Regions from separate parts of the Homo sapiens genome. Here region 1 is linked to region 2. The links come from fine-mapping of genetic effects on gene expression. A gene starts in region 2. The other region holds a variant in brackets. All regions are shown on one strand. Distances are between the middles of the regions.

Region 1 (4,401 bases), 25 kb before region 2:
AATGCTTGCTCCAAATCTCAACCTAGATAAGCACTGGAAGAAATCCAGTCTGGGAGAATCAGAAAATCTTCCCAGTTCCTTTTACAATGTAAATAACAGACTATTTCCAAGAGCCTCACCCCATCACCTTTATCTCCCCCATGCCCCTCCCCCAAAGAACAATTTACAGACACCACGTTGAAATAAACCACCAATGATTTCAAAGGAACTCACACATTTAGAATCCCCTAGCTTTAAAATATATTTTAACCCTTGATATGGTTTGGGTGTGTTCCCACCCAAATCTCATCTTTAATTGTAGTTCCCATAATTCCCATGTGTTGTGGGAGGGACCTGGTGGGAGATAATTGAATCACGGAGGCGGTTCCCCCCATACTGTTCTTGTGGTAGTGAGTAAGTCTCTTGAGATTTGATGGTTTTATAAGGGGAAACTCCCTCACTTGGCTCTCACTCTCTCTTGTCTGCCACCATGTAAGATGTTCCTTGCTCTTCCGTCATTATTGTAAGGCCTCCCTAGCTCACAATCCATTAAACTGTGAGTCCATTAAACCTCTTTTTCTTTATAAATTGCCCAGTCTCGGGTATGTCTTTAGTAGTGGCATGAAAACGAATTAATACAACCCTCTCTGACGTCTTGCCACCTGGCCCCAGAATGTCACTTTAGGAAGCAGTGGGGCAAAGGTCCCAAGCAGGCAAGTCATGAAAGAAGAAATATAAATAAAGAAAAATGCCTAACTCCATTTTTTTCCTGGCAATATAACCACATGTTTTGAGACCCTTCAAAACATTCATACCTTTCATATAGTAAGGCTCCTTCTAGGAATATATTGTAAGGAAAGCATGTGATGGGAACACTAAGGTGTTAGTCATAGTAAACATTAAAAGGGAGAATTAAATAAATTATAGGACAGGTTCCTAGTCCCTAATTACAAAAACTCTTGCTGACTAGAATTATGGGCAATTTTTATTTTCTTTAATTTTGCTAAATCTTCTGTTCTTCTGTTTTTCTACAGTGAACATGCATTACTTATATAATCAGCATAAATTAAAATGCATATAACTTTTCAAAATTTTTTGTAAACCAAATGTACCTGTAGTTAGTTATATTCCACTTAACTTCAGAAGGCAGTATATTTTCTTGTTTTCTTTATGTAAGTCTCTGAACTTAGAAACTACTTGTTTTCTACTCTCTCACATCCCTATCTTGCTTCATCTAGGAAAACATGTAATATATTGTGGCTTACATTAATTTCTTCAATTTCAACCATATACATGAATTTTCATAGAAGACTAAATGTTACCAACATTCCTTATCTTATTCATTATTTCTGTTTGGCATTTAAAAATAAATGGAATTTGAACTAACATCTTTTTATATTTCACTTTTAAGAAAAGTACAAACTCTGTAATGAAGAATTTATATCAACTTCTGATCTTATTTACATACATACCTATAGTGGTGCCTTGAGAATGACCCACATAATACACTTGTTCTTGGCCAGTTTTATTCAGAATGAAGTTAATGGAAGCTGGTAGGTCATATTTTGCCATCTCATCATAACTGTAATCCAAGAAAGGAACTCTTTCATTGAAATAGTACATAAAATAGAGCACACACATACTGAGTATGCAGTTTGATGAGTTATCACAAACTA[AAC/A]ACAGCTGGGAAAACCAGCAGTGAGTCCAGGAAACAACACCAGCAGGACTGCAGAAGCCCCCTTGGGCTCTCTTCCAGTTGTGTCTCCCAAAAGTAACTATTGTCCTCATTTTTCACACCAGAAATTAGTTTCGCCTGTTTTTAAATATTTCTGTAAGTAGAATTATACAATGTGTATTCTCCTGTATCTGGCTTAATCCATTTTTTGCTGCATATAATTGTAAGTTGTTCATTCTTATTCTACTATATAAATATACAACACTTTATCCATTCACTGCTGACATGCATTTGGGTAGTTTCCTGTTTTCCGTTGTTACAAATAGCGTGACAATAAACCAATTCTTGTATATGCCTTTTGTTAAAAGCTCTCATTCTTGTGTTTCATGTCCTTAGAGGTGCCTCTGGTTTTAAAAATGGGAAGCAAGCCCGGAGGCTGCTATAGTGCTGCTGACTTTCTCTAATACCTGGTACCAAAACATAGACCAAAACCCAAGTGTGCGTATGGGTATATGCATGCGCATGTTGCCACTGGCAGGAGAAGAGCCAACCCCTAGCCAGTTCATACAAGGTGCCAGGTTCTGTGGAGGTTCCTTCTCTGCACCCTCTCCTTTAAGCCCCCAGTGACCTTATGAGGTAGGTGTTTATTACGCTCCATTTTACAAATAAGGAAACCGAGACACAGGAGGCTTATGTAAGATGTCCAATGTCATACAGCAATTAACTGGTGGAGCCAGAAGGAAGAGGGAGGAAAGGATAATTTCTGGAAAGAAGAAAAGTGAACATCTGGATTACATATTTATGGAGAAAGGAGGAAAGTTATGGAATAACGTTTACCCAGCAGCACCCACACCACCAGAAATGCCGAAGTAACTTAAGAATTCCTAACTAAATGTAAATCTTAATGTAATCATTTACTTATAATTTACCTTACTGCTAGTCATTAAATTCCTAGCAACATTTAAAACCTTTCAAAAGACACTAACTTCCCCTCTCATACAACTTCAGAGTTACCACCTATCTACCTCTTCTGCTGGAAGCCTGTTGTCTGCTTTAAGAGTACTAAGGAAATACATCCATGCCATTATCAATTCATATATACCTGAAAGCCCAGAATTCATCCTGAGAAACTGAGAGTGTCTTATGTTTCCGAGACCAGGTATTTCCTCTGCTGTTGCCCATCCACACGTCAAAACCAGCATCAGCAAGAATGAAGCCCAGGCTGCTGTTGGCAAGGTTTGTGACCCAGTTACTAGAATCTGCCAGCAAGCCATGTTGCAGGAAGACAACTGGTTTGGGACCTGAAAAACATTCATTGTTTAGGAGGCAGTAGCACCAAGCTTCAAAACAAATATGATATCTTGCTAAATAGAACATTCGTAAAAGATCCATAAGCAAATAATGAACTAGAAATAAATTGAAAGATTGACATAGTGATGTACTCACATATAATGTTAGTAAAGAATTTTTTTAAAACAGCACTGGCAAGGTAGCAGTGAAACTGGACCATTTTTTGCATGTCCACTAACAAGACACACTTATGTAAGCAGCAAAAACAAAAATCAATATATTTTTAAGAAATTATAAAATGTTTTTACAATTTTTTTCTTATAAAATGTTTTTACAATTTGCTTTCGTAATTGCATTTCTCACAATAATTCCTAACAAAATAAACAAAAGGAAAGAAAAAGATCACACATAATGAGACATCACTATACACGTATCAGAATGAGCAACATCCAAAAACGCTGAAAACACCAACTGCTGAAGAGGATGTGGAGGAACAGGAACTCTCATTCATTGCTGGTGGAAATGCAAACTGGTAGCACCACACTGGAAAAGTTTGGCAGTTTCTTACAAAACTAAACATACTCTTACCATATAATCCAGCAATCACATTCCTTGGTATTTTACCCAAAGGAGTTGAAAACTTACATCTACACAAAAACCTGCATACAGATGTCTATAGTAGTTTTACTCATAATTGCCAAAATTTAGAAGCAACCAAGATGTGCTCCAGTAAATGAATGCATAACTAAACTGTGCTACATCCAGACAATGGAGTATTACTCAGCCCTAAAAGGAAATGAGCTATCAAGCCACAAAAAGATGTAGAGGAACCTTAAATACATATTACCAAGATCTGTAAAGGCTGCATTCTATATGACATGCTGGAAAAGACAAAACTATAGAGAGAGTAAAAAAGATCCTGGTTGCCAGGGGTTAGGAGGGAGGAAGGAATTCATAGACAGAGTAAAGAGGATTTTTCAGGGCAGTAAGACTACTCTGCATGATACTATAGAGGTAGACACATGCCATCATACATTTGTCCAAAACTATAGAATATACAACATCAAGAGTGAACTGTAGTGGCCGGGTGTGGTGGTTCATGCCTGCAATCCCAGCACTTTGGGAGGCTGAGGCGAGTGGATCACTTGAGGTCAGTAGTTCGAGACTAGCCTGGCCAACATGGCGAAACCCTGTCTCTACTAAAAATACAAAAAAGGTAGCTGGGTGTGGTGCCCCACACCTGTAATCCCAGCTATTCAGGAAGCTGAGGCAGGAGAATTGCTTGAACCCGGGAGGCAGAGGTTGCAGTGAGCCAAGATTGCACTGCTGCACTCCAGCCTAGGGGACAGAGGGAGACTCAGTCTCAAAAAAAAAAAAAAAAGGGAACCCTAATGTAAACTACGGACTTTGTGTGAATGTAGGTTCATCAGCTGTAACAATTACAATTCCACTCTGTG
Region 2 (4,401 bases):
TGGGATTATTTTTTTCCAAGAAGTAGTGAACTCTGAAATTCTTTTCTTTTTTCTTTTTTCTTTTTCTTTTTCTTTTCTTTTCTTTCTTTTTTTTTTTTGAGACAGTCTTGCTCTGTCCCCCAGGCTGGAGTACAGTGGCGAGATCTTGGCTCACTGCAAGCTCCACCTCCTGGGTTCAGGCCATTCTCCCGCCTCAGCCTCCCAAGTAGCTGGGACTACAGGCGCCCACCACCACGCCTGGCTAATTTTGTTTTTGTATTTTTAGTAGAAACAGGGTTTCACCGTGTTAGCCAGGATGGTCTCGATCTCCTGACCTCGTGATCCGCCGGCCTCGGCCTCCAAAAGTGCTAGGATTACAGGCGTGAGCCACCGCGCCCGACCGTGAACTCTGAACAGGAGCAAACGTTATCCCCTTCAGTGTGCATTGGCAAAGCAAGGCCACTGCTTCTACTTACAACTTTGTACTTCTTCATGATAGGAAGGATTGTACAGCCCCAGGCTATTTTTTATCATAAATGCAACCTCCCAAAAGTCCATTATTACTAGAGAATAAGGAGTAAATTGAAAGGGAAAAAATTAAAGGAATTACCACAATTGAAAACAGAATAGCATCTGCAGGAGCTGCTTTCATTCAGCGGTTTTCCTACAGAACCTGTATCAACCGCCCAGAGGAAGGTCCATGAGAGTAACAGCTAAAGCTACTCAGCTGAAAATCTCACCCAGTTAAGTTTTCCTTCCAACACAACACTACATACTTAGTATGTTTTTCTCAACATACTAAGCCAAGCAATTCTTACTAAGAAGGAGATACTCTGAAAATCTCGAAGGAGGGGGGAAAAAAAACCTTCCAGGCTGAATTAAGTGTGCTTTTCTGGGCTGTATTAACACCTTTATCTCAGTTATTTAGACTTTGTAACAATCTGACTCAGCTTTGTACCCCCAGGACCAAGCAAAGTGCCACGTATATATTAGATGCATAGTACAGATTCTGAAAAAAGATAAGAGCAGTCCAACAGTTCAGTGGCAGAAGAAAAGGCCCCAACGCAGCATGCTATTTAACTTTCTAATAACAACAATTATTACGACTCCCATTTAAGCTCTTGCGAGGCGCCAGCCACCGCAGGCAGCGCTTCTGATCTACTGTCAATTACTCCTCCACCGACCCTATGGCAGTACCATTAATTCCATTTTTCAGGAATCTGAGGTTCACCCAGCTGAAGTACTGGAAGCAAAGTGTCAGCTGTTTAAAAAGCAGTATCGCTGGGACTTTAACCAGGATTGATGCCCAAGTCTGCTTTCGACCACGCCGTTGGCTAACAAGAGAGGTAGGATGGGATGCCTGGAGGAGCTAAGGGGAGAGCACGAGGATGCAGAGAGAGGAATCAGACATCCCTGCTGTCCTCGCGGTCCAGGAGCACTGGGCAGCTTCACTGACCGGAGACCGCGCCTGTCCAGGAAAGTGGACAGCGCCCAGGGAAGAGAGTGGGCTTCTCTCTGAAGTTGCTCTCTGAAGTTGCCCTGGTTGATTGGCAGATGCCTTGAGCCAACGCCCGCAGAAAAAGCACCCGCAGGCACCCCAGGCAAGACTCGCTGGGTCCAAACGCAGAGGGTCTTGCCGGCCGGCAGAGCCTCGGGGCGCGACCCTCCCCTTGCTGAAGGCACCAGCTTCCACGCCGCACCCGCACCTGGCAGCGCCGCGGCGCCGGCACTCTCACCTGGAGCTGTCCTGCCGGGCCGCTGTCTCGAGTCGCAGTGCCAGCTCTCAGGGGCCGGGGTGCGGATAGGGGACCTGCAGGGGGCCTGGTCTGCCTTGTCGGGAGGGCGGATGCCCACCACCCTCGGACTATTTGTTCAGCCAATCAGAGCAGCCAGCCACCGGGAAGTGCCTCGGAGACTCCGCCCCAGACCAGCGCTGCCGCTTGCCAGCCCCCCAGTTGACCCCATAGAGCATGCGCCGTAGGCGTTTCTAAGAGATGGAGCCCGTCCTCCGCCTCGCAGGCTGGCAGGTCCACAGCTCTACCAGCGCGTCGCCTACGCATGCTCTCTTAGCAAAGGCTGTTTTAGGCGGCCTTCTGCTCCGCCCCCGAAGCTCCTGCAGGGCTGGCACCTTCTGCGCCTGACAGAGAGCATGTGGGCTCTATAAATGAAAGTGAATCATGGGCTCCATTTAAAGCGCTTATCATTGTGCCTGATGCAAAGCAATCTTGCTGCTTTAAATTTTTTATTATTATTAAAGATTTGTTAAAAGAGGAAACAATATTCAATATGTACATATTATTTATTAATCATTTTCTAAAACAAAGATTTTATTGAGCACCTACTAAATGCCAGGCATTAGTAAGACAGTGGAGGTATAGAAACCAACCAAACAAGGTTCCTGTTCTCTTGTATATATTCTGATGGGAAGAGACACATCATGAATAACTATATAATACATGAGGTGGTGATAAGTGCTATAAATAACAACAAAAACAAACAAACAACAACAACAACAAACAACAAGGGGCTGGGCACAGTGGCTCACGCCTGTAATCCCAGCAGTTTGGGAAGCTGAGGAGGGCGGATCACCTGAGGACAGGAGTTCAGGACCAGCCTGGCCAACTTGGTGAAACCCCATCTCTACTAAAAATACAAAATTAGCGGGTGTGGTGGTGTGTGCCTCTAATCCCAGCTCCTTGGGAGGCTGAGGCAGGAAAATGGCTTGAACCAGGTAGGTGGAGGTTGCAGTGAGCGGAGATCATGCCACTGCACTCCAGCATGGACAACAGAGTGAGACTCCATCCCCCAAAAAAAAAAAAAAACAGGGATAAGGAGGATGATATGTATATGGTAATCAGGAAAGGACTCTTATGAAGTGACACCTGAGCACAGGCAAGGAGGTAGTTAACAGCCTTAGATACTGGAGAAAGCACATTCTGGGTGAAAATAGCAGGTACAAAGGCCCTGTGGTAGGAATATTCCTGGTGGGTCCTAGCCAGAGTGGTGAGGTCTTTGAGGCTAAAACAGAATGTACATAGTAGAAAGTAATAGAACATGAAGTCCTAGAAGTCTGGTGCCTTGGGAGCCACTTGTCAAGATCTTACCGTGTCTTCTGAGTAAGATGAGAAGCCAGTGTAATATTTTCAATAGAAGGGCAGCATAATCTAGTTTAGAAAGATCATTCTGAACTACAGAAGCAGGGAGACTAATTAGAAGGTGTATTAGTCTGTTCTCATGCTGCTAATAAAGACATACCCAAGACTGGGTAATTTATGAAGGAAAAAGGTTTAACTGACTCACAGTTTCACAGGACTGGGGAGGCCTCACAATCATGGCAGAAGGCAAAAGGCTTGTCTTACATGGCGGCACATGTGAGAGAAAGAACCAAGTAAAAGGATTTTCCTCTTATAAAACCATCAGACCTTGTGAGACTTATTTACCACCACAAGAACAGTATGGGCTAGACTGCCCCCATGATTCAGTTATCTCCCACCGGGTCCCTCCCACAACATGTGGGAATTACAGGAGCTATAATTCAAGATGAGATTTGGGTGGGGACACAGCCAAACCATATCATTCTGCCCTTGGCCACTCCCAAATCTCATGTCCTCACATTTCAAAACCAATCATGCCTTCCCAGTAGTCCCCCAAAGTCTTAACTCATTTCAGCATTAACTCAAAAGTCCATAGTCCAAAGTCTCACCTGAGACAAGGCAAGTCCCTTCCACCTATTAGCTGGTAAAATCAAAAGCAAGTTAGTTGCTTCTTAGATACAATGGGGGTACAGGCATTGGATAAATACACCTGTTTCAAATGGGAGAAACTGGCCAAAATGAAGGAGCTAAAAGCCGCATGCAAGTCCAGATCCATCAAGGCAGTCATTTCTTAAAGCTCCAAAATGATCTCCTTTGACTCCATGTCTCACATCCAGGTCACACTGATGCAGGAGGTGGGTTCCCATGGTCTTGGGCAGCTCTGCCCCTGTGGCTTTGCAGGGGGACCCTTCCTCCTGGCTCCTTTCACAGGCTGGTGTTGAGTGTCTGTAGCTTTCCCAGGTGCACAGTGCAAGCTATCGGTGGATCTACCATTCTGGGGTCTGGAGGACAGTGGCTCTCTTCTCACAGCTGCACTAGGCAGTGCCCCATTGGGGACTCTGTGTGAGGCCTCCAATCCCACATTTCCCTTCTGCACTGACCTAGCCCAGGCTCTCCTTGAGGGCCCCACCCCTGCAGCAAACTTCTGCCTGGACATTCAGGCTTTTCCACACATCCTCTGAAATACAGGTGGAGGTTCCCAAACCTCAATTCTTGACTTCTGTGCACCCACAGGCTCAACACCACATGGAAACTGCCAAGGCTTAGGGACTGTACCCTGTGAAGCCATGGCCTGAGCTGTACTTTAACCCCTTTTTGCCATGGCTAG

Evidence for each region.
Region 1: its variant is fine-mapped to the expression of LIPA in whole blood (TOPMed, PIP above 0.99). The same link has a PIP of 0.9 or more in platelets.

What each region holds. Positions count from the first base shown.
Region 1 is chr10:89,225,444-89,229,844 of GRCh38, forward strand. It overlaps LIPA (lipase A, lysosomal acid type), which reads right to left. Exons shown (of 10, transcript NM_000235.4): 4 at 2,757-2,955; 5 at 1,452-1,561. Among named protein-coding and RNA genes, the nearest start is that of CH25H, 20 kb to the left of the region's middle. The variant AAC/A (reference allele first, on the strand shown) is at 1,656.
Region 2 is chr10:89,250,022-89,254,422 of GRCh38, forward strand. It overlaps LIPA (lipase A, lysosomal acid type), which reads right to left and starts at 1,754. Exons shown (of 10, transcript NM_000235.4): 1 at 1,716-1,754. RefSeq lists an enhancer at 1,781-1,840.